Homo sapiens: one gene and its partners. The protein of the gene in region 3 interacts with the protein of the main gene of each other region in a pairwise test. Each region holds a gene or a part of one and is shown on either strand. Other genes may lie near its edges.

Region 1 (10,230 bases), 2.1 Mb from region 3:
ATTCAGAATCCTTAGTTTTCCATATATAGTTCAGAAAGTCATTGATTGCCAATTTCTTCTCATCCTGATATTCTTGTTAATTTTAAAAAAAATTAGGTGAAAATTTTATCCTGAACAGTTTGATACGACTGATGGAACCATTAATGGCAAATGATAATTATTCACATATGCCAGTCTGGTTCATTAGCATTGTTTTGTAGGGAAACTTTTTCTTTTGTAGATAATTTAGTGTGACTTAAAAGCCAGAAGCCTTTAGTCTTCATGTGAGCATTCAGGCTGAGGTATAGTATTTGTGGATGTGTGTTGCTGGGTGGGGTCATTATTGGGTTCAGAAAAAGTCATCTTCTACAGAAAGACGCATGAAGCTAGAAATAAAATTCACCTACTGAATTTGGTTATTTTGCCTGATGATAAACATCATATCCCAAAACCTGTGCACTGTAAACTGTAATTGATTTTTGTCACATTCTATACTGTAGGATCTAAACCCAACTGCCTTGCAACTCAGGTAACACAAATGAGTAGTATAATGTTGTGTTTAAAGAACTATGGTGCCCTTTTTAAAGGGGATGTTCTAATCTGTTACCACATGGAAATAGGGGTTTAGGATACTAGATATATTGATTTTTTTTTTTTAATAAGAGAAGCTAGAAGTCTTTTTGTTTATTGTGAAGTGCCCTCTTTTTAAATGTTGGGAATTCATGGGAAATAATGTTAAATACTATACAGATGAAACAAAGCATATCTGTCAGATGAATTTGCTGAGGGCTGCTAGTTTGCGTCCTATGATCTATCTTCCTGTCTCATGAATATGTGTTTTTCTTTGAAGAGGAATGACAACTATTAGCAAGACTCAGGCTCATTAATTTGGGGTCTTAAGTTCCACACTAAGTTGACTCCTTTGTACTTTTTGAAATACGATTATTCAAGAAACAGCTTTACCATTGTGTTACATTCTGCTTAGCTTGGATTTCTTTGTACAGAGATTGCCTGAGTGTCCAGACAGTAATTTTTGTATTACTGAATTTATTAGTGTTGAATTTGCAAAGTTGTGTTTTCCAAAGTTTCATTCTGCAGCACTTATAATCGATTGTTGAAGATAGTGAATAGATCAGTACCTAGAAGTAAAAATGGATACAAGTACTACAAAGTCCTGTCTTGCCTATTTAATAGGTATTCTATTAATGTTTGGGGCTCTGAATTATATGCTATAATTTCTATGCTAGCATTCATTGTTTCTTAAATTTTAATGAGTTTAAAATTGCAGGCTTCTAATAGAATATGAATATCTTCAATTTATTTGGTGATCTTGTCCTTTTTTTAAATTTTTATATATGACCATGGTGAGACATTTGTAAACTTAAAAAAAGCTCTATTAATTAAACCATTTTTGTATTATTATTTTAAGTATTTCAGTTATTATTCAGATTCACATAGTTGATTACCATTTTTAATCAGTGAATTTTTCCAGGATGTTTTCTACATCTTTGTCTGCTTTCCTATAACTCAGTACTGTAACTCAGTACTCTGAAATAGTTTCCTTTGTTAATAGAGTCACTTTTATAGTACTGTGCTTGAGGTCATATACAGAGTATTGTGTCCAAATTTATCATTGCACAAAGTGTTTTTGGAAATTCTTGGTTACTCCTTAGTAAATTACCTGTAATTGGGTTACATGCTGGTAGGGTTTAAAATCTGATTGCTAAGTGAATTCTCTATAAAGTGAGTTTTGATACATAGAAACTTTTCATATAATTCTTAAACTCATGTGTCATGTATTTTCATTTATAGTTTTCATATTCATTAACATATGTTGTTCCTTACCATTTACAGCTCAGAATTCTGCAAATGCAGATTTTGCAAACTTTGATGCATTTGGACAGTCTAGTGGTTCGAGTAATTTTGGAGGTTTCCCCACAGCAAGTCACTCTCCTTTTCAGCCCCAAACTACAGGTAGAGCTTCTCCAGCATTGTGCTTAAATGTTTACTTTACAAAACAAAACTCTCTAAATGTAGTTTTGAAAAATTAGTCTAAACTTAAATTCTGTAATTATCTGACTTTAAAATGGTTCTATCTTCAAAAGCTCTGGGGAAACCTGAACTCTTTATTTTTTTCTATGTTCATTTGTTTTTCTGCATTATTTGGTATATTGTCTGTTTGACAACATCCATTCTCCTCCTTTTCCTGCGCATGAATCTTCCTTATATCTACCATGCACACAGGACAGAGGCATGACACTACTATAAGTATTTCTCTCTCTCTGTCTCTTTTTTTTTTTTTTTGGCAATCCTCCTGCCTCAGGATGGAATACAGGCACATGCCACCACTCCCAGCTAAATTTTTTTTTTTTTTTTGGTAGCAGCTGGGTCTCACTATGTTGCCCAGGCTGGTCTTGAACTCCTGGCCTCAAGTTATCCTCCTGCCTTGACCTCCCACAGTGCTGGGATTACAGGTGTGAGCCACTGTGCCCAGCCAGTACTATAAGTTTTTTAAGGTTCATAGAATCCATTGATTTAGGCTGACATTATACCTCTTAATAAAGGAAGCTGGTTGCTTCTGTAGAGCTAAAAATGTAAGTAATTTTCGGGGCAACAAGCCTGAGAAAAATTTTTATATGTTTATTAGACAAGAGTAGATTAATGATCACTTCAGTCAAACTTGGAAATAGTTTTCTGTGCAGGAATTGGTGTTTAAACATTGAATACTCTTTCCATAAATTGTGCTGTTTTCGTAAACTCATGGAACCCTTATTTAGATTTTTGGCTGATTACTTTTCTTTCAACTTTTAACTCTGTGTATTGTCTTAAAGCCTTTTCTTTCAATTTTCTTTTTTGTTTTTTCTTTAACTTTCATCATTTACATAATTTCTGGCTGTCCAGCATTTAGAATGCTTTCATCTAGCTGCAGTTTTGGTGAATTTACTTCAGCTTTTCCTCTTCAGGCTACCCACAGTAAGTTCTGTTGTCAAGTAGGCATCTTATACTAATTTGTATATTTTTGCTATACTTCAAGGGTTTTTCCAGTTATAGATTGTTAATAATTCTTTAGTGATAATCCTTCATAAAAATCTCTTCCAACTCTATTTATTAAACTCAGAGTTAGAGAACACAATAGTAGACAATCAAAGAGTTACTTGGTTTAATAATAATTTGAAATAATATTCTTTATATAAATTTTGAAAGTTTAGTATGTACTTTGTTTGCCAGCTCCTTGTAACAGGTCACAATATTTTACATACAAACATATATTACTTACCTTTAATTGAAACCACCATGATTTAACTCTTGAAAGAAATTTGATCAGTGTATATTTTTTTTAGAATGTATAAAAACCTGCTTGATAGAAAGTGTTCGTGTTTTTTTAATAGAAGTTCATGCATTCTGTTTTAAAATTATCTGTAGTTGTCTTTTCTATCACTTTAATATATAACTGTGTATATATACTGTTTTGATTTCTGAAACTAAAGTTTAGAAATAAAGAACTAATATCCCAAAAATGTAGGATCAAAAGCATAGAATGAAATATACTGGTTTTAGTCTTTTGATAGTACTTTAAGGAGGTCTCTATAATAGAGAACAGATTTTAAAGATGTAACAGGATATATATAATAGTGGCCATTAGGTGAATTGTGGTTTATAAAGTCAAAAATTGCTATAATGTATTATGTACTGTAATTTTAATGCCTTGAACTATATGGTACGGCATGATTTTACAGTGGACATCTTGATATTGTATACACATTAAACTATTATGTGGAATTAAATAGTAGCTCTTCAAGTGAAGTAAGTATAAATGTCAACGACCATCTTTTAAGGAATTTTGGATCACCGTAACACATTTTACACATTGTTAATCGCTACCCCTGGGATTGTTTAAACTGTTTCGTCATGGAGCCACAAAAGTTTGAAATCCTCCTAGTAAGATACTTTGCATCTTGTTTGCAGTCTGTTCAGGGAGAACTAGTGAAAGGCTGTAGTATATTTGGACTAGAAAGTAACTGAATCTCAAACCAGGTAGTGTGGAGATACCCCTCCATGAATTACATTCTTCATTCCAGGGTAGGTAATACACAGAAACATGTTACTTTACCTGTTGCCAAGGCCTTTGAAAAATCTACTTTTACAAAATTGGAAAACGTCACTTGTAGTCAAAAGCCATTGCCAGTCATTGATTTTAATGTTGTAAGATTGCTTATAGGACATTTAATTTAGGAAGAAATGATCATACAGTCTATGAGAGGGTACTAGGAAAAGCTTAGAAATTTCAAGTGCTCTGTTTATTCTGTTACAGGTGGAAGTGCTGCATCAGTAAATGCTAATTTTGCTCATTTTGATAACTTCCCCAAATCCTCCAGTGCTGATTTTGGAACCTTCAATACTTCCCAGAGTCATCAAACAGCATCAGCTGTTAGTAAAGTTTCAACGAACAAAGCTGGTTTACAGACTGCAGACAAATATGCAGCACTTGCTAATTTAGACAATATCTTCAGTGCCGGGCAAGGTATCAAGCTTTAAGCAAAACAAATACAAATTTGTGTTAAACAGTGCTCTTAATTTGGTTGTATTTATTAAAATCTGAACATGCTACACTTTTCTCAGTTGTTGTATAGAAATTTTGTCTGCACTGTCATTTTGAGTAAAATGTTCACTTGACACATTTTAGACCTGAAATATCAACTACAAAACTGAAGACATAGGGACTGATTTGTAAACTTTCAGTCTTACTAGTTGAGAAAAATTTTATTTTGTCCTAGAAGGCGTGCTTTACTTTTCTTTGGCTATAAAGAGCCAAGAAACCCCATTGGCAGAGCTGAATGGAGGATTATTTGGTGGTTTCTGTAATATATTTACTTCGAACAATTTTCCGTTAACATCTTGGTGGGTTTTTTATATTTAAAAAAAAAAATTCATGAATTTTACAGTATAGTCTTGTATCCAGTTTTATCTTAAGGCTAGTAGCCTCTACAAATGCATGTGGCACTGGTGAATAGCAGGTGTGTGTTGCTAAATGGAATTCTCCATTCTGATCTCTGGGCCTGTTTTCCTCCTCTCCAAAATGAGGATAATTCTAAGCATTAAACTCATGGAGTTGTGTTCTAAGTATTATTGCATGTTAAGGCATATAGAACAGTGCCTAGCACATAGTAAGTCCTCAATAAATGTTTCCCGTTATTACCATCTCTAATTTTTTTGTGGAGAATGCTGGGGAAATGATGCTATTGATAGACTGTTCACATTAGGTCTAGCATTATATGAATTTATATGTTCATGTGAACAAGATCCACCCGTCTTGGAGATGTTAACGTAAGAGCACTTGAGAGTTTCTTTCTTATGCATAATCCAGACAAATTTTTTTGGTACAGAGTGTTAATTTTTGTTAAGAGACATATTCTGTCTTTATCACAGTGGTATGTATAACAACTAATCCTGTCCAGTATGGTCCAGGTTATTTATTAGATTAATGATTTGGAATCCTGCTTAACTCTAAATCCATTTTAAGTTTACCTGTGTTTCATGGCAAATGTGGTTGATAAGTTGAAAGTGTAACTTTAAATTTTTGGTGTAACTTGATTTTGTTCGTTCCCAGGTGGTGATCAGGGAAGTGGCTTTGGGACCACAGGTAAAGCTCCTGTTGGTTCTGTGGTTTCAGTTCCCAGTCAGTCAAGTGCATCTTCAGACAAGTATGCAGCTCTGGCAGAACTAGACAGCGTTTTCAGTTCTGCAGCCACCTCCAGTAATGCGTATACTTCCACAAGTAATGCTAGCAGGTACCTTGTCTTAGCTAGCCCTCCTGCTTTGTGTTTTATCTTTTTTTTCCAACTTTGAATAATCAATTAAAAAATGACTGTTTCAAGGTATAATTTTAAAATTCTTGGATATTTTTGTAAATTTGAGGAATTTGAATTTAAATGCTAATTAAAATATAATCCTTGAATAATTGCCATAATTTTATCTTTTCATTGAATCAGACGTTTTGTTATGTTCTGTCCTTGAACACTAAACCGTATTTGAGAGCATGTACACATCTCAAAATGGACAGTTCCTTACAGATTGTACTCAGCAGAGAATCCATTTAGTAGTCAAATAATATACTTTAAAAATAGTTTTTAGTCATGATGATTAAACAGTGAAAGTCCCATATTATAGGCTTAGTTGTAAATACAGATTTTTAGAAGTGTTTGCACCAAAGCCCAAAATCAATTCTGTATCTCTTCAGTGTCATCCTCATATTTACAAATAAGCACATCTGCTGTTATGTTCATATATATCTGTTAGAATTCTTGGCAGTAGGAAGTCTAACACATTTTAGGACATTACACTTGTAAAAAACTTTTCTAGTCTTTATTTTAGAGTTGCGGAAATAGTCTCAGAAATACAAGAGATTTACCTATAACAATGTTTTATTCATCTCTGTTTTCCAATCCTGTGGATTGTATTTACTAATTTCTTTAGTTATCCTGGTAGCTTATTTTCCTTTAGCATCTTTTCTAGAAAGAAATGTTAGGATTGTAACACTTCCGGAAACATAAAGTCTGGAAACATACTTTATATATAATACATGATTTATTGATATTACATTACAGTACATCAGGGGTTCACAAACTGTGGTCCATGGAATGTTTGGGGTACCTGAGACCCTTTCATGGGGTCTGTGAGGTTAAAACTTTCTTTATAATAATTCTGAGAGATTGTTTACCTTTTCATTAATTGATATTTGCATTGATGGTGTGAAAACAATGGCAAGTAAAACTTGCTGGTGTCTTTTTATTTTTTTTTAATACTTTAAGTTCTAGGGTACATGTGCACAACGTGCAGGTTTGTTACATAGGTATACATGTGCCATGTTGGTTTGCTGCACCCATCAACTCATCATTTACATTAGGTATTTCTCCTAATGCTATCCCTCCCCCAGCCCCCCACCCCCGACAGGCCCCCAAGTGTGATGTTTCCCACCCTGTGTCCATGTGTTGTTCTTGTTGTTCAACTCACACCTATGAGTGAAAACATGCAGTGTTTGGTTTTCTGTCCTTGTGATATAGTTTGCTTAGAATAATGGTTTTTGCTGGTGTTTTAACATGAATATTAAGATAGTGGCACCAAACTGTACTAGTCGTTACAATAGTCATATTCCTTCCCACTACACATTCAGTTTTACTTGTATTTTTTATTTTTTTATGATGATTCTTAATGAAGCAGTAACAATTGTTTATTTTATTACATCTTTACACTTAAATGTCTTAATTTTCTTTGTGTTGATACTGATGCTGTGATACACGATATGTTCATTATTTTATGGCTACCCTGTAAATCGTTACTTTCTTTTTTTTTTAAGAAAAAAAATGAACTCTTTCAATATTTGTTCTCAGCAATGTTTTTGGAACAGTGCCAGTGGTTGCTTCTGCACAGACACAGCCTGCTTCATCAAGTGTGCCTGCTCCATTTGGAGGTATGTGCTTCTGGTATATACACTGGTTTTTACAAAGAACCCAAATATATATTGTGTAGCATTTTCTTAGGAGTCAAAGCAATGATTTGTTATCAGAATCCTTGAGTTTTCTGTCTTGATAAATATAGTGAAATAATTTAAATCTTAAATACAAAATGTATTAGGATTTTATAGTGTATTTTATAATTTTTTAAAGCTACGCCTTCCACAAATCCATTTGTTGCTGCTGCTGGTCCTTCTGTGGCATCTTCTACAAACCCATTTCAGACCAATGCCAGAGGAGCAACAGGTAAGAAAAAGAGACAGTGGAACAGTAAGTTTTGGGGAAGACATTTATCAACAAAGACACCATGTGAAGAACACCAGAAAATGGGGCCTCTTTCTTAGTGAAGTGAATGGCAATGGATAGAAGAGTTTGTCCATAAAGACAAATTCTAGCTGAAAGTTCATAAAATCCTGGAATTTAACAGTTGAGAGGGACCTTAGAAATTATCTAGTGTCTGCCCTTTCCAGTTAAAGCTTTCATTTTTCAGGTAGGGAAGCCCAGACATGGAGATGAGACTCCACAGAACGTTTATGACAGAGATAGGACTTGAACAGAGCAATTTAGATGTATTTGGTGGTCTGGTTTCAGAATTACTGGTTGTCACTCATGCAGTCTTAATGGAACCATTTTATGAGAAGTTTTTATTTTCCCTATGAGATTGCATCAGATGACTTTACTACATGAATTCTTAATTATTAGGTCTTTTTCTAGTGAATATCTCTTTCAGGTGTTAACATTTTTTAAGTTGTGGAAACTTGATTCAGTCGTGGGTATAATACTGAATATTTTCTCTTTTGATAATTTTTTCCCTTAATTCTCTTTGTTGTCTCCATTTTATTTTTTGATTCATACTGTAAGCCATTCACATCTTTCTCATGTTATACCTCTGATTTTTGTCGTATTACCTTAAACACCAGAGATATTTGCCAGTATCTTGGAATGTCAGCAGGTGCATTTGGTATGGCTGGGTATCCATTAAATCTAGAGTTTGTATGCTTTGTTTTTGTGTATATGTCACAATAATTTAGAACTAAAGCCTAAACTCCAGTTATAGCAAATGTTGATATGAACTCTTGAGAGATTAGGTACTTGTAACATTTTAATCAAACCATTAAGAATTACTAGTTTTTAGTAAATCTCTTTGTCATTGACAAGATTAAGAATCACAGTATTAGGAGTTTGAGCTGTAACTATTTTCTTTTCACATAAATGTCTTCACTTATACTCTGTTGGTAAGTAGCATAATAGATGTTTGATAAGTATTGGAATTTCACACAAAATTTAACTTTAAAAAAAGTTTAATTCAAGTGTACCTAATGAATGATTGTTTTAAATTTCCATTTGTACAATTTATCAGGTGTGTGATATGTGCAGTGTTTCTGTTTCTTAGCATACTGTTTTGATTTTGTGGACTGAGTTTGTAAAATGTCTCATGATACAATGGGTTTTTGTACATTGCCTCATTTAATCCACTCAGCTGTCATCAAATAAATATTTTAATTGTGTGACAGCTGAGGGAACAGGCCCAGAAAAGTTAATTGAACATATTTTGAGTACAGCCAGCCAAACTTGTGTTCGAATTCTGATTTATAGTTACTTGCAGGTTGACCATAAGAAAGCCTTTTGAATTTTGTTCTTTTAATGAATGGGGTAAGAATGATAGGGGGATGTTCAAACATTTATTGTGATAAAGTTGTTCACAAGATGCTATTGAGATATTTATAGATATTATAACTTCACTTAAGAACTGATGAATGGAAACTCAAATTATGTTTTGACTGAGCCTAATCATGTTGACCTGACTTCTCTGAGCCTTCATGTTGTCCCTCTCTATAGAATGTGAACAATATTCTCTTGCTGGCAGGTTTGTTGTAAAATTAGATGATGCACATTTACCCTGTATGGTCTTTGCGTTACAGCATATGCTCAGTAAATCAGACCTATTATTTTCCTTTCATGATTGTACCTCTGAGTTGGTTCTATCATTAGAGTTAAGGGCCTTTTTTTGCTTATTTTATTTAGAGTATGCAAGTTTTGTAAAAGTTGAAGTTCTACATAGGATATAAAATAATATAAAATGTACAACGTATGTGCAGATGATATAAGATAATTCTAGTATTAAGTAACAAAAATTTATTAGAAAGGTAAAACGACAGTGTCCACAAATGTTTATTTCAAGGTAATACATTTTTTCCATTATAAGTCATTTTGAATTTATCACGTTGGTCACCTTTATTAGATTATTATTGAATTGACCAAATCACAAGCATTAACTGCATATGTTTCTATTGAAGCTGAAATATAAACAATACTTCGACAGATGCACTACGCTTAAGAATTTCCAGTGTTTTATACCATCAAAGTTAATATTATTTAAGAATTTTTTGTTGCCTTCAAATACATTAACACTGGCCAGGCACAGTGGCTCATGCCTGTAATCCCAGCACTTTGGGAGGCCAAGGCGGGTGGATCACCTGAGGCCAAGAGTTTGAGACCAGCCTGGCCAACATGGTAAGACCCTGTCTCTACTAAAAATGCAAAAATTAGCCAGGTGCGGTGGTACGTGCCTGTAGTCCCAGCTACTTGGGAGGCTGAGGCAGGAGAATCGCTTGAACCAGGGAAATGGAGTTTGCAGTGAGCTGAGATCATGCCACTGGACTCCAGCCTGGGCGACAGAGCAAGACTCTGTCTCAAAAAAAACAAAAAACACATGTTAACACTGTGAAATTATATTTTG
Region 2 (10,833 bases), on a different chromosome or scaffold from region 3:
CCAGAAGGAACAGTATAAGATTGCTGAAAGAAGGGAACATTTCTCCAGTTTGAGGGTTATTTACGGACAAAGTACTAGTTTTCAAGTGGTACACCTAACCACTTTTTTTCTTTCTTTTTTTTTTTTTGAGACACAGTCTCACTGTGTCACACAGGCTGAAGTCTAATGGCATGATCTTGGCTCACTGCAACCTCCGCCTCCCAGGCTCAAGAGATTCTCGTGCCTCAGCCTCCTGAGTAGCTGGGATTACAGGCGTGCCAGCACGGCCAGCTAATTTTCATATTTTTAGTAGAGATGGGGTTTCACTATGTTGGCCAGGCTGGTCTCAAACTTCTGGCCTCATGTGATCTGCCTGCCTTGGACTCCCAAAGTGCTGGGATTATAGGCATGAGCCACCACGCCCAGCCCCTAACCACTTTTTTAGTATGCTGTTAGCTCTTGGGGATTATACCCTAAATATTTTAAGGAAGCCAATGAAACTGAAAAGGTTACCTTCTTATTACCAAATGTGGCGGACTGTATTTCCAAGATGTTTGCAACAGTATCTTCTGTCTTACATGTTTGTCTACAATTTGATCTGGCCATTGATCCATTAAAAGGTGAAATCTACCTCCCCTCCCTTGAATCTGAGTAGGCTTGTGACTGCTTGGACCAAAAGAACACAATGAAAATGATGGTGTGGGCCGGGCGTGGTGGCTCATGCCTGTAATCCTAGCATTTTGGGAGGCCGAGGCGGACGGATCACCTGAGGTCGGAAGTTCAAGACCAGCCTGACCAACATGGAGAAACCCCATCTCTACTAAAAATACAAAATTAGCTGGGTGTGGTGGCCCATGCCTGTAATCCCAGCTACTTGGGAGGCTGAGGCAGGAGAATTGCTTAACCCAGGAGGCGGAGGTTGAAGTGAGCCAAGATCGCGCCATTGCACTCCAGCCTGGGCAACAAGAGTGAAACTCTGTCTCAAAAGAAAATGGTGGTGTGTTCTGAGGTTAGATCATAAAAGGTGATGCAACTTCCATCTTGTCACTGATACACTCACACTTGGAGACCCGAGCCACCACATAAAAAGCCTGACTACACAGAGGCTAACACTGAAAGCCAAGCCACACAGAAAAGCCATATATTGGTGTTCCAGTTGGCTGCCCTTACCTTTGAATCATCCTATCCCACGTACCAGGCATCAGTGAAGGAGCCTTCAGATGATTCCAGCCCTCAGCCATTGAGCCTGCATTCCATCCCATATCAGGGAGCAGAGAGAGGCCTCCCCATGGTGCCAGGTCCAAATTCCCTCACCCACAGAATCCATGAGCATCATATGGGTGTTTTTTTTTTGTTTGTTTGTTTTGTTTTTTGAGACAGAGTCTCGCTTTGTCACGCTGGGTGGAGTACAGTGGTGTGATCTCGGCTCACTGCAAGCTCCGCCTCCCGGGTTCAAGCAATTCTCCTGCCTTAGCTTCCTGAGTAGCTGGGACTACAGGTGCTCGCCACCACGCCCAGCTAATTTTTTTTTTTTTTTTTTTGAGACGGAGTCTTGCTGTCTCCCAGGCTGGAGTTCAGTGGCACGATCTCAGCTTACTGCAAGCTCTGCCTCCCAGGTTCTCGCCATTCTCCTGCCTCAGCCTCCCCAGTAGCTGGGACTACAGGCGCCCGCCACCATGCCCAGCTAATTTTTTTTTGTATTTTTAGTGGAGACGGGGTTTCACCATGTTAGCCAGGATGGTCTCGATCTCCTGACCTTGTGATCCGCCTGCCTCAGCCTCCCGAAGTGCTGGGATTACAGGCATGAGCCACTGTGCCCGGCCCCGGCTAATTTTTTGTATTTTTAGTAGAGATGAGGTTTCACTGTGTTAGCCAGGATGGTCTTGATCTCCTGATCTCATGATCCGCCCTCCTCAACCTCCCAAAGTGCTGGGATTACAGGCATGAGCCACCGCGCCTGGCCACAGTATGGGTGTTTTAAGCTGCTAAATTCTGGGGTACTTTGTTATACAGCAATAATAACTGGAATACCATGTTTCAACCTAACCCTCCCACCATCCTCTCCCATTGGTTTTCAACAGTACATACTACAAACTTCCATTCCATTTTGACTTAGGCACATATAGCAAATTCCCTTCAGCAAATGCTTGCCAAAATGATGTCCATTGCCAAGACCACAGTCAGAAGTGCTAATGAAAGGGAATGTGTGTAGAATCCATGAGTCTCAGGCCATGGTTGAATACATTTGGCTAGAAACTGTCACATGTGCCCAAATAGTTGATATTGTCACTATTTGGGACAGTGTCTGGATTTTATGACTTTTATAATTAACCATGCTAATGAATAGCTTTACAGCTACTGACCTAAAAAGGAATTTCACCAGTAACCATGGTCATTGAGACAAACCTAGTTTAACAAAGTATAGTCAGTGCCGATGAAGACTGAAAGCCCAATACTTTTTTTTTTTTGAGGCAGTCTGGCTCTGTCATCCAAGCTGGAGTGCAGTGGCGTCATCTCAGCCACTGCAACCTCTGCCTCCTGGGCCCAAGCCATCCTCCCACCTTAGCCTCCTGAGTAGCTGGGACTACAGGAGCATGCCACGACACCCAGCTAATTTTTGCATTTTTTGGTAGAGACAGGGTTTTACCACGTTGCCCATGCTGGTCTTGAACTCCTGGGATCAAGTGATCTGCCTGCTTCAGCCTTCCAAAGTGCTAGGATTACAGGTGGGAGCCACCATGTCTGGCCCAATACTTTAATAAGGGATGCAAATCAGTATTTCTATCAGTTATCCAAATCATATTTTTAAAGAGAATATATGGCTCAGGAGTTTAGGCTACAGATACACCCATGGAATCCAGTCACAAACCAAGATGATTCACACTTCTAAACAGACACTCACCCTTTCTGCACTCCTGATAGATGGGTTGCAAAGGATCAGTCCAAACATTTACATAAAAGAAAATTACTATTCTGTCCCTGTAAACCAACACACTATTAGTCTGCACTATATACCATATTCCTGGTATCTTCATTTTCTTTTGTCCCAGACATTTCTTTTTAATTATTATTATTTTCTTATTTCCAAACAGAACTCTGAGGCAATAACGAGAATTTTTGTTTCCGTTCTTTTTATCGTTTTCTAATTTTAAGAAATCAACGTATTAAACAACATTTTTGTATTCACAGTAAACTGTGTCCAATTTAAGAGGATTAAAAAAAAAAAAACTGACATAAAGAGGAAAAAGGGCCAGGCATGATGGCTCACTCCTGTAATCCCAGCACGTTGGGAGGCTGAAGCAAGAGGATCGCTTGAGCCCAGGAGTTCAATACCAAGCTGGGAAACGTAGTGAGACCTCATCTCTACAAAACAATACAAAAATTTGCTGGGTGTGGTGGTGCATGCCTGTAGTCCCAGCTACTCAGGAGGCTGAGGTAGGAGGATTGCTTGAGCCCACAATTTGAGGCTGCCGGGGTGAGCAGTGACTGCACCACACCTGTACTCCAGCCTGGGCAACAGAGCCAGACCTTGTCTCAAAAAAAAGAAAAGAAAAGCAAAACAAAACAAAAGGTTGGGGCGGTGGGGGAGATCCAGTTAGAGAATACTGGGTGGAGGCAGCCACCCTAACTACCCACATGTCCCCCCAGAACCACCCTTCCCAGGGTACAATAGTCTTGTCAAATTATTTCAGTAATAAAGAAAGCAGTTCATAAGCTTTTAGAATCCTAAAGAGAAGAAAATGAAGGCTTTGATGAACAAAGATTAGCCTTGTTAGGAACCTAGAACAAAAAGTCAAATAATACTCCCCTTTTTTTTTTTTTTTTTTTTTTTTGAGACGGAGTCTTGCTCTGTCCCCCATGCTGGAGTGCAGTGGCAGGATCTTGGCTCACTGCAACCGCCGCCTCCCAGGTTCAAGCAATTCTCCTGCCTCAGCCTCCTGGGTAGTTGGGATTACAGGCACGTGCCACCATGCTTGGCTAATTTTTGTATTTTTAGTAGAGACGAGGTTTCACCATCTTGGCCAAGCTAGTTTTGAACTCCTGACTTCGTGATCCACCCGCCTCGGCCTCCCAAAGTGTTGGGATTACAGGCGTGAGCCACCGCGCCCGGCCTAAATATTTTTTTTTAAGTGTTTTAAAAGGAGCTCGAAATAACTGTTTTTCATTATAAGTCTAACCTCCTCTTTCCTCATGTGAAAAGTAAAGAAATGTATCGTTGCTATATGAAGGGTTCGTTTAGGGAAGACTGTGGGATGGTTAGATTGAAGAAAGTGGGAAGAAAATACTGGCGCCAAAAAGATTTTTTTTTTTTTTTATTTAAAGGCGATGATGACCTGGGGGTGATTGGGACTAGGGAGTAATACTGCCAGAATACTATCCTATTTCACGGGAAAGGGAATGCCAGGGCTGGACTCCGATATAGCAGTTATTCCTGCTGGTACCTAAGCAGTTCAGAGATGCTAGAATGCAGGGATACCACCCATCAACTAAATGAAGCATCCCATTCCCCAGGCTTCCATATGTGGGAGTTCTCTCCACCAGTGAGATAAAGGCGGGCTCAGGGAAAACAAAGCCCTAGACCACAACAAGGCAACACCTTCTCGCACCCCATTTTCACCTTCCAGGCGCGTTCCTTCCTGCTATCCGGGCCCGCTCTCCCGCCCGGCAGGGTCTAACGCTCACACAGGTCTGCCAATTCCCCTGATGCAACCCTCCACCCTCTGCTCGCTAACCCCAGTCCAGTCAGCTCTCCCGGGCCTCGACCCCCGCGGTGGAGACTAAAGGGTTCAGGTTTGGGTCCCCCACAGGCAACCGCCCTCAGGTCAGCGTATCCGAGGTGGAGCCGCGCCCCCGAGCCGGGTCATCTCGTGCTCCGTTCCTCAGTGCCCACCTGACCGATCACACTCTTTCCCGGCCCCCTCCCTCCTGCGCCTCCAGCCAACCTGGGGCCGGCCTTTCGGGATGACCGTCACGCCTGGACGCAGGGTTCCAGCGCCTCGGACTTTTCCTCTGATGGGCTCCCGGCTGCCACCTTGCTCTCCGCCACCTCCACCAGCGATTGCCCCACTTGACGCCGCCATCCTGGGCGACCGCACTGGGTACAATTCCCGCTGCCCATTGGCTGTTACCTAGGCAACCGGGAGCAACGCCACTCCGCATTGGCCCAGCCCGGCTCCACGCCATCTTTGTGCGGGGCCGAGTGTTTGCGAACCCGGGCTGACTATGTGAAAGAGGGGTGGTCCCACCTCTGCAACGCAGATAAAGACAGAGGATCCAGATCTGGCCTACCCAGAGGCCGTCTAGTTGAAATGGCAACCCCAAAGAAAACCAAACCTGCGCCCGAAGCAACAGTGACCATCAACGCGAGCGGCTCTGATCTTGCTCCAGTCCCCACTGCTGTCAAGGGCCCCGCCGCGGAGTTTAAGGCAGATCCTAAATCCAGCTTCAGAGAGGCAGCTTTGTAAATTGTAACGCGCTAGGCAGGATAGCCTCCAATAACTCTGTGCTAGACATTGTGATATCAAGACACTTTTGCATTCATTATAGGAATTTGTGCTGTCCTTGTCATTATCTAGATCCTTTTTGTTTAAAATATAGTACCTGGCCAGGCGCAGTGGCTCACATCTGTAATCCCAGCACTTCGGGAGGCCGCGGCTTGAGCTCAGGAGTGCGGGAGGCTTGAGCCCAAGAGTTCTAGATCAGCCTGGGCAACGCAGGGAGACTCCGTATCTACAGAAGAAAAAAATTACCCAGCCTAGTGGTGGGTGCCTGTAGTCACAGCTACTCAGGAGGCTGAGGTGGGAGGATCCCTTGAGCCCAGGAGGTTGAGGCTGCAATAAGCCATGATTCTGCCACTGTACCCCAGCCTGGGCGACCTAGCAAGACCCTGTCTCAAATAAATAAATTGCAAACCAAAAAGTATCTGAGACAGGTCTCAATCAATTTAGGAGTTTATTTTGCCAATGTTAAGGACATGCCCGTGACACAGCCTTAGAAGGTCCTAAGAATGTGTGTCCAAAATAGTCGGGACACCACTTGATTTTATACATTTTAGGGAGACGTAAGACATCAATCAATACATGTAAAATATACATTGGCTTGGTCCCGAAAGTGGGGGTGGGGGTGGCAAGTTCCAGGATGTAGGTGGATTCAAAGATGTCCTGATTGACAATTGGTTGAAAGAGTTTAAAGACCTGGAACCCACAGAAGGGAATGTCTGGGTTAAGTTAAGGAATTGTTACTAAGATATGCACGCACACACACACACACACACACACACACACACACACAAGGAATTGTGGAAATCAAGGTTTTTATTATGCAGAGAAGGCTACAGGTAGCAGGCTCCAGAGAGCATAGATTGTAAATGTTTCTTTATTTTTTTTTTTGTTTTGAGACAGGGTCTCCCTCTGTCACCCAGTCTGGAGTGCAGTAGCTGGATCACGGCTTACTGCAGCCTTGACCTCCCAGGCTCAAGTTATCCTCCCACCTCAGCCTCCTAAGTAGCTGAGACTACTGGTTCATTCCACTATGCCTGGCTTATTTTTGTATTTTTTGTAGAGATGGTGTTTTGTCATGTTGCCCAGGCTGGTATTGAACTCCTGGGCTCAAGTGATCCTCCCATCTCTGCCTCCCAAAGTGCTAGGATTACACGTGTGAGCCACCAAGGCTGGCCAGTGTTTATTATCAGATTTAGAAAGGTATCAGACTCTTAGTTAGTTCTCCCCTGGATCAGGAAAAAGACCTGGAAAGGGAAGGGGATTTTCTACAGAATGTAGATTTTCACCATAAAAGACACCTTTGCCTGCTATCATGACAGATGGGGCCTGCTATCTGTCAATGTTGGTATCATTGCTACAAAGAGTCTGCTGTGTCAACCTTAAGATCTCTGCTTTAATGTTAAATGCTGGTCCTGAATTCCAAAAGCAGGAGAAAATAATGAGGCATGTCTGACTCCCACTTCTCATCATGGCCTCAAATAGTTTTTCAGGTTAATTTAGGAATGCCCTTGGCCCAGAAGAGGAGGCCATTCATTTGATTGGGGGGCTTATAATTTTATTTCTGGTTCACTAGATAAATAAATAAATAAATAAAATATAGTGCCAAGATTGGAGCAAATCTTCCCAAATACCACTCACATCAATCTGTGTATCCATATGTTTATTTCTTAAACAATGTGAGTACAGCATGATGCTAGGTTCTGTCAGGCTTGAAAAGCCATGATTGTTACTCTTATGGCCTTTATAATTAGCTGAGTGTGGTGACAAGTGCCTGTGGTGCCAGCACTCGGGAGGTTAAGGCAAGAGAACTGCTTGAGCCTGGTTAACAGAGACCCTGTCTCAAAACATAAATAAATAAATAAATAAATAAATAAATAAATAAATAAATAAATAAAATGTAGTTTCTTGGCCAGGGGAATGACACACTACAAGCAGTATTTTATGAAAATTAATCTGACAGTGACACTCAGAGATGACCAGTGAGAGATTGGAAGCAAAGTAACAAACTCAGAAGTTATTGTAATAATGCAACTAACACATCCTGGAAGTTTCATGTAGCATCAGTGGAGATGAAAGAAAGGGGGTAAATATGAGACATATTTCATAGGGATATTTAATAAGAATCAACATAGTGTTAAGAGCATGGAAACAGTCTGCCTGGATTTGGATCCGGCTCTGCCATTTACCAGCTGAATGACCATGGGCACATTACCTTTACCTCCCTGGGTCTGGGTTTCCAACATCACAGGATACTATAAAGCTGGTTCCATGAGTTAATCCATGTAATGCATTTAAAACAATGTCTAGGCCGGGTGTGGTGGCTCATGCCTGTAATCCCAGCACTTTGGGAGGCCGAGGTGGGCGGATCATGAGGTCAACAGATCGAGACCATCCTGGCCAACATGGTGAAACCCCGTCTCTACTGAAAAATACAAAAATTAGCCGGATGTGGTGGCCCGCGCCTGTAGTCCCAGCTACTCAGGAGGCTGAGGCAGGAGAATCGCTTGAACCCGGGAGGCGGAGGTTGCGGTGAGCTGAGATTGCACAACTGCACTCCAGCCTGAGTGACAGAGCCGGCTAATTTTTGTATTTTTAGTAGAGACAGGGTTTCACCATCTTGACCAGGCTGGTCTCGAACTCCTGACCTCGTGATCCACCCGCTTCGGCCTCCCAAAGTGCTGGGATTACAGGCGTGAGCCACTGTGCCTGGCCAAAAAATTTTTTTAGATAAAATAAAAGACTCTGAGGGGTTTCTGTGGAGAAAAAACTCAGAATTCCAGGGAGAACTCTAAATCTGGGACCTTTCCTTTACCATAATTTGAAGCTTATGGGCTAAATGAGATGAATGATACCAAAAGATTATCTATGTGGCTACAGACCCTGGGCCACAAGAGCCAGGCATCAGTTGATTATTGAGGTCTAGATAGGAAAAGGAAGTGCATGTATTATAACTGAAAGGGGCAATTTAACCTTCTGTACGACTTTTGTTTAGAATGGTTTGTCTGGCCAAAAATGTTTAAGACATTCCCATACATATAATTAAACAATAGTGCTTTCAATTTGGTATTTCTAGTTAGCAGTGGCAATAATTTGATTCAAGAAAGAATGATTATGAAATATTGGTGACTATGTGACTGGCCATGATTCGTGAAAGCCCATACCTCTAGTCTGCTGGTGACTTTAAGCATAAAAACAAAAACAACATCAACAGTAACATCAGCAGTGATTTTTTTTCAAAAAGCTACCATATGTTGAGTGCTCTTTATGTACAAAACACTATGCTAAGTGCTTTATTTTTATTTTTCCTATTAGAGAGTCATGCTTCATATGCTAAGTGCTTTACATAACATTATATTGATTCTTGATTCAGTAATCATGGGGATGATTATTCCCATTTTATAGATTAAGGAACTGAGGCTTAGAGAGGTTATATAACTTGTCTAAAACAACTGATCATCATGGAGACTGGATTCAAACTCAAATGTCTCTGATTTCCAAGCCCATGCTTCCAACCATTACATTTTACACTTTTTTTTTGAAACGGAGTCTGGCCCTGTTGCCTAGGCTGGAGTGCAATGGCACGATCTCAGCTCACTGCAACCTCCACCTCCCAGGTTCAAGCGACTCGCCTGCCCCAGCCTCCGTAGTACCTGGGATTACAGGCGCCTGCCACCATGCCTGGCTAATTTTTTGTAGTAGAGACGAGGTTTCACCATGTTGGACAGGCTGGTCTCAAACTCCTGACCTTGTGATCCACCCGCCTTGGTCTCCCCTAGGATTACAGGTGTGAGCCACCAAGCCTGGATGTACATTCTACACTTTTGAAGGTAGTGTTTGCATACATTTTTTTTTGAGACGGATTCTTGTTCTGTCGCCTAGGCTGGAGTGCAGGGGTACGATCTCAGCTCACTGCAACCTCCACCTCCCAGGTTCAAGCGATTCTCACACCTCAGCCTCCCAAATAGCTGGGATCATAGGCGTGTGCCACCAAGCCCAGCTAATTTTTTTTTTTTTTTTGTATTTTTAGTAGAGACAGGGTTTCGCCATGTTGGCCAGGCTGGTCTTGAACTCCTGACCTCAGGTGATCCACCCGCCTCAGCCTCCCAGAGTGCTAGGATTATAGGCGTGAGCCATCGTACCTGGCTTGTTTGTATAAATTTTAACTGAAACAGTATTCCATGAATTTATTATTATTATTATTTTTTCAGATGGAGTTTCGCTCTTGTTGTTCCAGGCTGGAGTGCAGTGGCACAATCTCTGCTCACTGCAACCTCCTTCTCCCAGGTTCAAGCAATTCTCCTGCCTCAGCCTCCCAAGTAGCTGGGATTACAGGCATGTGCCACCAAGCCCGGCTAATTTTTGTATTTTTAGTAGAGACGGGGTTTCACCATGTTGCCCAGGCTGGTCTCGTTCTGTTCTACTTTCCAGGCCCTTGGTAACCCAGTTTAACTCTGCTTCCCCTCGAATCAAGAAGGTTGCTCTCTGTTCCCTATATGCCCTAGCCTTCCTCTTTTACTCAGGTAACTCCTGCTTGGTGTAACATTTTTTTCCTGTCTCCTTTTTTTCCAGCAATCTAATTACTCTTTCTTTAAGACTCAGCTCATAGCACATGACCCACTTAAAGCCTTTGCTTGATCCTTGAGCATTCTGGTTGAAAAAAAAAATTAGAAAAAAAATAAAGCCTTTGCTGAGCCTGCAGCCTGCCTCAGTTAATTGGTGAACTGTTACGGAGTTTTGAGCTCATTTTGCTTTTTTTTCTCCTACTGCCTCAGAAAGCCACATGCCTTCAGCTTGAGGGCAGGGACTCTATCTTCCTTCCCTTTCTCATGAATAATAATGTACTGAGCACCTACTGTGTCTAGACACTGAGATTTAACAGTGTGAGTAAAAGCAATGGACTCTTACCTCGTGGTAAGAACTTCTTAGGCTCATGGGACCATATTTTTCTTCAATTAACAAATAAGCATTGAGCAGCTGGGCCAGGCACAGTGTAAGATATTAATTGGCTATGTATTATTCTTTGTATCACAAGTTTGTATCTTCACAGGAACTTGAAGATAATGGGTGAGGCAGCGAGTCAGGAATAAAATGTCTTAACAATTGCCCCTGGGTTTTCCTAGGAACTCCTTAAAAAAATTAATTTTTAAAAAATAGATGGAGTCTTGCTATGTTGCCCAGGCTGGCCTTGAATTCCTATAAGGTTGAGAAGGAAAGATAGCTTAGAGCAGTCTGAGCTCTGTGTGATGTATGCACAGTCTATTGGCTCAAAGACATGAGTATGGGACTTCAGTCATGCCTTCCACACCCACACTCTGGGGCAATGGTTTCTTTCTTTCTTTCTTTCCTTTCTTTC
Region 3 (10,549 bases):
GTCCTTTGCAGAGACATGGATGGAGCTGGAAACCATTATCCTCAGCAAACTAACACAGGAACAGAAAACCAAGCACTGTATGTTCTCACTTGTAAGTGGGATCTGAACAATGAGAACACATGGACACAGGGAGGGGAACAATAGACACTGGGGTCTGTCAGGGGGTGGGGGTAGGGAGAGCATTAGGAAAAATAGCTAATTCTTGCTGAGCTTAATACCTAGGTGATGGGTTGATAGGTGCAGCAAACCACCATGCCACATGTTTACCTGTGTAATAAAACTGCGCATTCTGCACATGTACCCCAGAACTTAAAATAAAAATAAAAATTAAAGATCAGCTAGCATTTATTGATACTTATTAAATTCTAAATGTAGTTATTTTACATAGGCTTTTACATATAACTAATTTAATCTTCAAAATAAATGTGTGAGTTTATACTATCATTATTGTCATTTTCAGATAAAGAAATTGAGGCAGCGAGAAATTATGTATCTTTCCCATTGTCACACAGTTAGGTTACAGGGTAAGCAGTACACCAGCCCAGTGATTCCTTCTCAGAGCTAATGCTCTTGCCCTCCTCACAATACCCACATTCACATAAATGAATATAGATTTATATTATAATTTTAATTGTTATGTAATAACTTATCTTTCAAGCTCTTGTTTTTAGACATATAGGAAGTTTTAACATTTTTGCTATTCCAAACCATGAATAGTCTCAAATATACAGTCTGGCACACTTATCATGTCCTGAAAGTAAAATTATTGTTTCAAAGGCTGTGCACGTTAAAAAATTGAAACTGTATCAGATTTCCTCACATTTTGGTTGCGTGCATTTACACAACCATTCATTTCTCCACATGTATGCCAGCATGAGCTATTATGAAAAACTAAGAGCCATTCTTGATTTAATTTTCATTTTATTACTATAAGGTTAAACATATTTTTTGTATGTATTTGCCATTTCAATTTCTTATTTATGATTGACCCATTCCTTTTCTTTGTCCTTGTTAGTACTATGGTGTTTAGTTCTTGTTTATTTATAATAAAATATAGAAATATGTAACTGTTAACTTTATTTATAATCTTTTCCTACTTAAATGTTTTACATTGTTAAGAATAATAGCCTCCAGCTCCATCCATGTTCCCACAAAAGAAATTATTTTATTATTTTTCGTTGTCGCATTGTATTCCATGATGTATATGTAGCTCATTTTCTTTATCCAATCTGTCGTTGATGGGTGTTTAGGTTGATTCCATGACTTTGCTATTGTGAATAGTGATGCAATGGACATTCACTTGCATATATCTTTACGGTAGAATGATCTATATTCCTCGGAGTATATACCCAGTAATGAGACTGCTGGGTCGAATGGTAACTCTGCTCTTAGCTCTTTGAGGAATCACCCTACTGCATTGCACAGTGGTTGAACTAATGGAGGAACGGAAAGCCAAATACCACATGTTCTCACTTATAAGTGGGAGCTAAATGATGAGGACTCATGAACACAAAGAAGGGAACGACAGTTACTGGGGTCTACTTGAGGGAGATGAACACAAGAAAATTATTGGGTACTGGGCTTAATATCTGGGTGATGAAATAATCTGTACAACAAACCCCCATGACATGAGTTTACCAATATAATCAACCTTCACATGAACCCACGAACCTAAAATAAAGGTTAAAAATAAATTTTAAAAAATGTTTTACGCTTTTATGTATTCAGTTTTCTTTATTATCACTTAGTTTTTTCAAACTTTGTCTTTAGTTATCTTTAGATGGGCCATCTCCACTCTAAGATCATATTAAAGTTTCTTTTAGTAAATTAGTGTTTTTATATACAAATGTTTCAGATGTCTGGAGCTAAATTGTTCAATATGGTAGCCATTATTTACATGTGCATGTTAAATTTAAATTAATTAAAATAAAATCTAAAATGTGGTTCCTCGGTCATATTAACCAAAGTTTAAGTGCTCAATAGCCACGTGTAGCTAGTGGCTATTATATTATATTTTATTTTCTCAGGGACTAGGTCTCCTTACGCTACCCAGGCTGGCCTTGAATTCCTGGGCTCAAGCAATCCTCTTGCCTGAGCTTCCCAAGTAGGCTGACTACAGGTTCACGCTACTGCATCAGGCTGATGGTTATTATTTTCGACAGTGCAGATATATACCGTTTTCATCATCAGATAAATTTATTTGAACAGTTTTTCTCAAATGTTAATATGTACCCCCAATCACCTAGGCATATGTTATAATGCAGATCCTTACTCGAATAATGTTATGGACTACATGTTTGTGTCCCCCCAAATTCATATGTTGAAACCCTAAATTCTCAAGTGATGGTATTTGGAGATGGGACCTTGAGGAGGTAATTAGGTCATGGGGTAGAGCCCTTATGATGGGATTAGTGACTTTATGAGAGCTAGCTCTCTCTCTCTCTCTCTCTCTCTCTCTCTCTCTCTCTCTCTCTCTCCCCCACCCCATATGAGGACGCCAGAAAGAGAGTCTTCACCAGAACCCAAGCATGTTGGCATTCTGAACTCAGACCTCCACTCTCTAGAACTGTGATAAATTAATTTCTGTTATTTAAGCCACCTAGTCTATGACATTTTGTTATAGCAGCCTGAACAGACTAAGACAGGCATTTTGGGGAAAGACCCAAATTGCGTATTTAATGAGCTGGTGCTGTAGGTTCTTAGACCACATTTTGTGTTGCAAGTGTCTAGATTTATTTTTATGTAAGGAACTGTGAAAATTCATTGTGTATGTGTACATTTCTCTGTTTTTCAATTTTATTATTTATTGATATGCAATGACATATTTATATGCTAAATATCTACAGTTGTATATATTTTCCCTGCACTTTCTAACCTCTTCTATAGATTCACAATCAAGTCTTGTGCCATACTACAATAAAATCAAAAAAGCTTTGCAGGATGTTTTAATATTTAGTCAAGCACATCTCTGCCAATAGCTTTTCAAGGCCTACCAAACAGTTTTATTTAAATTGGAATTTCATTCACTCTAGTGAATTTAGTAAGAAGTAATTATTTATTAAATTTATTCTTCCTATTCAAGAACAAGGAATTCCTATAATTTCCCATATCTTTTTTATGTCTCTGTTTTGAATTGAATCTTTGTGTCTGTCCCAAAATCCATACACTGGAGCTCTACTCCCCAGCGTGATGGTATTCGGAGGTGGGGCCTTTGGGAGGGAATACAGTTTAGAAGAGGTCAAAAGAGTGGGGCCCCTGTCATGGGATTAGTGTCCTTGTAAAGAGAGGAAGAGTCTCTCTGTCTCTCTACTCTCTCTTCTCTCTCTTCTCTCTCTCTGTCTCTCTCCCCCTCCCTCCTTCCCTCCCTCCCTCCCATGTGAGGACACACAGCCAGAAGGTACAATTTGCAAGCCAGCAAAGAATCCCTGACCAGAAGCCAAATCTGCCAGCACCTTGATCTTGGAGTATCCAAGCTCCAGAACTGTGAAAAATAAAATTCTGTTATTTAAGCCACTCAGTCGATTGTATCTTGTTTTCAAAGCCTGAGTTGACTAAAACAGTATCTTAGAAGAATCTTACTGTTTTCTCTAAATATGATCCTTATGTTCATATATTCAGTTGGTCTTCCTATGGAGCAATTTTATTATTTCTAGTAAGTTTCAAACTGGTTATTTTGCATTTTTAGTTAGAAAAACTATGGAGTCCCTTTGGAAATATTTTTCTTCCTCACTTACTTGGAGTTTAGTTTGGTTACTTGTATATTTAAATTTCCATTTATACTTTTATTTTAAAAAAAGACAATCTCATGTTCATTATATGGATACATTTGAATTTTCTACTTGTGCAGAATATGTCACCAGATGAGATATGTAGTCATGCATTCATTCAATAAATCCCTACCACTGGCTAGATGCAATCAGTAAGCTGGGGCCATGCGAACAGAAAGGAAGGGCTCCACTCTTAAGGACTCTTAGGCAAAAACATTTGAACAATGAAATAGGAATATTTGGTAGAGTATAAAAAATTCATGATTTTATTTTTAATTATACTGGATATTTCATAATACAGAGAGCAAGCATCCAGTTTGAATGTGGTAAATTAGGACAAACTATGAGAGTAAGACATACTTGACTTTTGAAAAGTATAGATATTGTTCATGCAAAGAAGAGAGATGGTTGGTTGGAGTGTGGGTGTGTGATTCACTAGAATATATGGATCCTTGTTTAGAAATATTTTTATCATTTTTAGTATAGCGATGAATACATTGATGGTATTTCTGAAATCTTTACTGGAAAATATCTGTTGGACAAAACAATGGAGGGATGTTTGGATCTATTCCTAAGTCTCTTGCCAGGGGAATATTTCATTTATTGTCAGTTTTCCCCCTTGGCACTGTAAAAGTAGTTTTTTGTGTGTATTATTAGACCATAAATCTTTTACTTTTTCTTTCTGTTTTAGCTACTGAGTATGCTGGATCTTGGAGCACCCATATCACCATTTGCTGCCCCACGACCCCTAAGTCATATGTGCAACTTCTGTCGACATCTACATTGTTATAGGCAAAAATCATGAGGAGCATATGGTTTTCATTCTACCAAGACTTTCATTTCACACTGTTACCAGAAGGGTTAGAAATCCTGATTGGATGGGAAGGAGATTAGCTTTTTCCTTAGTGGAATAATTTCATTTTAACAGAGGGGTCACCTTCCTAAGCTAAATGTGAAAAGAATGATAGAAAGAGTACAGATCATGGAAAAAAAAAAAAAACTAGAAAGGCTTTGTAGTAAATTTTGATATGACTTCAGAGAGTTCATCCTCACTTCATGTATTTGAATAAACCCTTTAAAATTTAGGTAACTAAATTATTCTATTTCAATTCTCACTTTTCTCATTTACGTCACTTTTATACAACAAGCACTTTCCACCATCTGGCTGATGTATAGAATAAGAAGCATTTTCAGGGCGCTGACTCGTCTGGTCTATCCAAGTTCACTGAAGGGACCTATTTAACCCCCAAAGCATCAAACTCTATTAATACAGTGTAACCAAAAGAGCTAAACTCTACCCTGACTAAAGAACTTTAAAAGAAATATCAAGTCATCAGGTATCTCAATGACTTGTTTCTTATTGACATCAATAAGATGTCTATTCAATAGAGTAGAAATAGAATAGAAACATCCATGTATTTTATAAAGATGCACAAGAAATAAACCAATACATGAGTATAATTTGAGCTTTTTAAATATCTCTATACCTTTATTCCCGATATGAGGATTTTTAACTTAAATTTTGTCCAACGCACTTTTCTCCAGATACTATTGAAATGAGTAGAGGTGCGTTCTGCATTTGGCTCTAAGATGATTTGCAAGAGTAAAGATGCTTTGCTGTTTCATTCAGTGAGACCTAAAGTAGTTCTGGGGTCCTTCTCAGCACGATCCTCAAAGGTTCTATAAACTCCTATACACTAATATGTCTCCAGAGAATATATTGCCCTGTCAGTGACATTGACACCTAGAATGAGGAAAGTGTGGGATTGAGAAAATGGGATTGGTAAAATGTGATGATTCTCAAGCCCTATTCTGTAATATAAAGAGAAAAAGAAAGAAAAAGAAAAAGGCAGGGAGGCAGGCAAGTAGGAAGGAAGGAAGGAAGTAAAGAAGGAAAAGAGGAAGGAAAGAAGGAAGGGAGAAAGGGAGGGAGGGATGAAGCAAGGAATGAAGGAAAGAAAGAAGAAACAAAACAAGGAAGGAAAGGGGAGGGAGGAGAGGGAGGAAGGAAGGAAGGAAAGAAAGAAAAAGATATATTTTCCTAAAGTTGAATATATGAAACTTAAAAGACCATCTATTGTTATAAATATGCTTTCTCTATTCTTCTAATATAAAGATTCCTTTTACTTTTTGAATTTTTGTGGTGAGGAAATGGCAGATTCTTCATTTTTTATGCTTGGCAACTGTATGTCAGCCTCTCCTCACTTTGTTTGGATTATTTTGGTGCATGAAATCAAGGGGACTGAGAACCACTGTACTGGCCAAAGATGAGGAGACCTGCAGTCAGCCCAGGGACCTTGGGTCTTAATCCTAATGAGGCAATTAAGTAAGTCAGAAACAAGTAAGTCTGTTTACTTATCTTGGTAGTATTTTTCTTACATATAGAAATGGGCTTTACACTAGAGCTTATTCAAGCTCTCCATAGTTCAAAATATAGACCCCCAGACTGGCAAAATTATCAGTCATGATAAAGTGTTTCCGTTTTCTAAAATGTCTGTCAATAATTTTTTTTTTGTAAAGAACTTTTTCCACCTTTGGTCATGTGCTGAAAGACAACATCTATGAGAACACTTCACTACCAAAATAATGGCACATTAGTAAACCTCTTGATCACAGTGTGGTGGCTGTTACTAGTTTATAAGTGGTGCTTGAGGCACTTTTCAGCAATGTGCTAAGTATTTAGAACCTTCATAAGGCAGAGAGAGAGAGAGAGAGAGGGAAAGGGAGAGCATTGGGATAGGGGGAAGAGAATATGAGAGAGGTCTGGCCTCTTCTCTTCCCCGTTTGTATTTCTCCTCCTTTTCATCTATCTAATCTTGCAGAATCCTTCTTAAAATTAAACAGATGTCCTGTTCTAACCAAAAGCTAGATACACAAAGACCAAGAAATAAGTGATGAGCTTCAGGAATGCACTTCAGGACATGTAAAATAGAAAAGCTTTATAGTAATGTAATGTGTTGATTTTATTTTTCCCCAGATACTTACAAGTTAAAGAAATATAATTTAAGAAAATTACAGCACAGTCTCAGGTGACATTTAAGAATTAGACAGGTGAACTTGTTTATTTTTGTGGTCTGTCAATGCATTAAAAACTAAATTCAGAAAACTATTTTCTAAGACTTTGGTTATGAATATAGACGTTAAAAAACACTCTTGGGAAAACCAACCTGCAAGTGAAGGTCATTTACAGTGAGTTACTGAAAAAGAATGTGAGGGGAAAAATCTATAGGTCACTATCAAGTAATAAGCACATCCCCTCCCATCAAAATTGCTTTTTAAGCTCATATCCATCAGAAACATATTATATATTATTCCTTTTATCATAGTGCAAAATTAATAGATTAAAACATGTACATTTTAGTTTTTACTGAGGAGGAGCCAGTATGAGAAAAACTTTGAGCTTAATAAATACAAATACACACAAACACACATATATAAGTTGTGGTATATAATGTGATATATATGTATATATTCAGTAGAGTATTAAGAACAGAATGAGGAGAGTCTTTGGGAAATATCAGAAATAGAATGACTTTAATTTTAACAATGAGTCTATAGGAATTAATGACATACATATCATAATTATTTTGCATCTTATTTTAGTTAAAAAAATGTGCAGTCCGAGTAAGACCTTTGTTCCACACACGTGTGTGCTGTGCATATTCTTTCTAAGTGGACTAGTTTTGTTCTCATGCCATGGGAGCAGGTGGCATGAAGCTGTTTTGATGAGGTTAAAAGGCTCCTCCCCTCTCTCCCCAAGCAGCAGCCTGAAGTACGTCAGCAGTAATTGTGTGCATGGCTCGGCTGTGCAGGGAGGGTGGAGGCAAAATTGATATCAAATAAGGGTATCAAACTGAGATCTAGATGTTCCATTTAAGTTGTTGTTCATTTTCATTAGCCACGCCAGGGGTGAAATGCTTATAACTTAACCATTCTCTGTAGTAAGAACATTTGTTTTCAATGGATTTATATTTTTCCTCTCCATAAAGACTGAATTAGTGCTATAGTGAATATAAATGAAGGGTGTTTCTTTACCCTCTTTTCCTTTTATTATTTACTAATCAGACTTCAGCTCAGTTAGATAAAAGAGAGAGGTTCTGTTGCCTAGATGTGAGGCCTTTAATGAGGATGGGAGCCCCCAGGGAGCCGAAATCCAAAGTAGAACGATGCCGCTTTCCGGTTTCTTGCAATTTCTTCAGTTGCTTCTCCCTTTTCCAATGGGCCTAGTGAGCAGGAACTATCCAAGGTGCTAGAACGCTGGCAGCCTTGCCGTTCAATGCAGACGGATTGCAGAAACAGAGAAGAAAGATTACTGCTTATTTCAGAAGGTAGGTTCTTTGTTTCAGAATCCCTGATTAATCAGCAGCAGCTTCAACAGACTAAGGCAGCTGGAGAGGAGAAAGAGAAGCAGGAAGGGAGGGAGTCAGGGGCAGGGAGGGAGGGAGGGAGTGGAGGGAGAGAGAATGAGAGAGAGAGAGCTGGTTGTCACGGGGGAGGGACTATGCCACAAGCTGGGCTGCTCCAAACCTTCTGTATGTAAGTGGCAATGAGAAAGAGCATCTTTTTGGCTGAAAGGAGACATTTAGAAAGGATGTTTCTGATTTTTTGTTTTCATTTATTTTTGTCTTCGCAGAATATAATCAAATGAGGTACATTAGCCAGCTTGGTGATTGCTTCTGGTCCTGTAATCATCTGTGTAGCAAAGTGGGTAAAATCATTCAATTTCTTCCCTGCTGGACCTGGAAGGAGAGGGGCTGTGTGTTCATCCCCACCCATTAGCTATGCCCTCTTTTCTCCGAATGTCGATTTAAGGAAGCAAGCACCTGTCTTCCGCCACTGCATCTTCCTAGCAAACTTTAAAGGCCATTTTATCTGATAGGAAGGACATCGAGAATGCTCTGATCTAGTGATGAAGAATCTGGGAGTCGACACTTTTCCCATCCAGACACAATGCACTTTAATTGAAGAAACACTGAGCTGAACTACAAGTCTATTTCTTATGGTGCTGGATTACTCCTACAGAACTGCCCTGAGATCAACCGTGAGAGAGGGCTCTGACAGACACAAGTCACCTTCTGGTTATTGCACTTAGCTCTCCCTGGGGACTTAAATTTTGGTATGTATCTCATTTTTCAGATTCTCTAAGCATGCTAATCGAATCCAGCACTGAATAGATCAAGCAATCTGGTGATAAAATGGAATGGATTTTAGTTAGGGATACTTAATGCTGAAGTTTGCATGCCTTATTAGGTGGAGCAGAAATAAAGCCACAGTGAAGGCATCCAGGGCTTTAGTGAGCCTGAGGCTATTTTTACTCCCTTACCCACTTAGTTACATTACCATGGAAATGGTTAAACTAGATTTTCATTAGTAAAATAAGCCATGTTGAATTATTAAAGCTTTGAAAATGTTTTCCAGGGTATTAATTGGCATTCAAGTTGTGCATGCTAGCTATTTATCCGCTATTCCATACCATAAATATTTTACAACTGTCTCTTAGCACATTTATGTCAGCAGTGAGAGCCCAATTTTACATTCTCAGGAGAAAAGACACAGTATCCCCCAAAATTCAAAACTACCAGACAAACAGCAAAGCCGACACTGCTTCTTCCTGACTGATTAGACATAAACCTCTTTGAGAAACATTTTTTAATACTATTCAATGTCAGAAAGATTTTATTAGTCTCATCACAATAAATATTTTCTGTAAAACTTTAGGTGGACTTGTTTTACTTGGGACATGTTCTTATTTTGTTGGGGTGTCTCCATCCTAATTTTTCCAACTACTCAGCAATATTTTAAATACAAGACATGTGAGTATTTCATATCTGGAAAAACTATTACATAAAATAATATTTTTCACTATCATTGGGAAATACTAAAGTTCTTTTGGTACCATAGAATTGGATTTTTTTTTCTAAATATAGCCGAAAAATAATGAAATTCTGAAAAGCTTACATGATGTAGTTTTAGTCATTTTAACATCCAAGCATTTATAACCAAGTAGTGTGGAATAACAAATATAGAGAAAGAGTGAAAATTAACTCTCTTCCTAATTCTTCACATTTTAGACAATGTTCTCATTTATTTTATATATTGTCAAGCACTAATTACACAAATTAATGAGAAAATGTGGTCCACAAATGCAGAAATTATTTTGTTTTCCTATGGAAAGTGCAACATACATGAGCCAACTCAGCAAAGAAAGGGACTATGTGAAGGACATAGACAGTTTAGAGAATTAGTGGAAACAGACCAGAGGAAAATATTACAACTGCACAAGGGACAGTGGAGAAGCCTGAGGACTTGAAGCATCTGTCAAGTTTAGAAAGAGAAGTGTAAAAATCCTAGACACAAGAAGGTTGGTTATTGTTTAAAAAAATAAATAAATTATAGACTCCCAATTCAATTAGATGGTTCCCACTGTAGCTCCAGTCAGCAATTTATTAGACTGACTACATCTACTTTGCAAATAATGCCTTGTAAGCATCTGGAACCATTTGGCCCAAGCCTCCAAAAAGTATCTCAGCCACTGGCATTTTGCATGAGTCTCCAATATTAATGGAAATGTACAATCTCTTTACACCATGGGCAAACAGCACCATGACAACCTGGAAGATGAGGGGGAGATACCAATTCATGATGCTACTGCATTAACACGATTTATGCCTATCTTACTCATTTTGGGAAGAGAGATAGTGGAGAAAAACTCACTGCAAAGTAATCTGCTTTCTGAGAAAAAAGCAATCAGTGTCTTTGTAGTCACTTTAGCAAGCTTTCTT

What was found.
Region 1: the proteins of NYAP2 (region 3) and AGFG1 interact in binary tests that used the Homo sapiens proteins (3 or more experiments, as listed by UniProt).
Region 2: the proteins of NYAP2 (region 3) and MORN4 interact in binary tests that used the Homo sapiens proteins (3 or more experiments, as listed by UniProt).

What each region holds. Positions count from the first base shown.
Region 1 is NC_000002.12:227,529,258-227,539,487, forward strand, and holds part of AGFG1 (arf-GAP domain and FG repeat-containing protein 1), read left to right. Parts: intron 1-1,833; coding exon 1,834-1,953; intron 1,954-2,880; coding exon of another isoform or gene 2,881-2,952; intron 2,953-4,291; coding exon 4,292-4,501; intron 4,502-5,587; coding exon 5,588-5,768; intron 5,769-7,367; coding exon 7,368-7,447; intron 7,448-7,643; coding exon 7,644-7,736; intron 7,737-10,230. UniProt on the Homo sapiens protein: Required for vesicle docking or fusion during acrosome biogenesis. May play a role in RNA trafficking or localization.
Region 2 is NC_000010.11:97,628,425-97,639,257, forward strand, and holds the start of MORN4 (MORN repeat-containing protein 4), read right to left. Parts: upstream 5,077-10,833; 5' UTR 4,923-5,076; intron 1-4,922. UniProt on the Homo sapiens protein: Plays a role in promoting axonal degeneration following neuronal injury by toxic insult or trauma.
Region 3 is NC_000002.12:225,392,161-225,402,709, forward strand, and holds the start of NYAP2 (neuronal tyrosine-phosphorylated phosphoinositide-3-kinase adapter 2), read left to right. Parts: upstream 1-7,549; 5' UTR 7,550-8,095; intron 8,096-8,263; exon of another isoform or gene 8,264-8,400; 5' UTR 8,401-8,883; intron 8,884-10,549.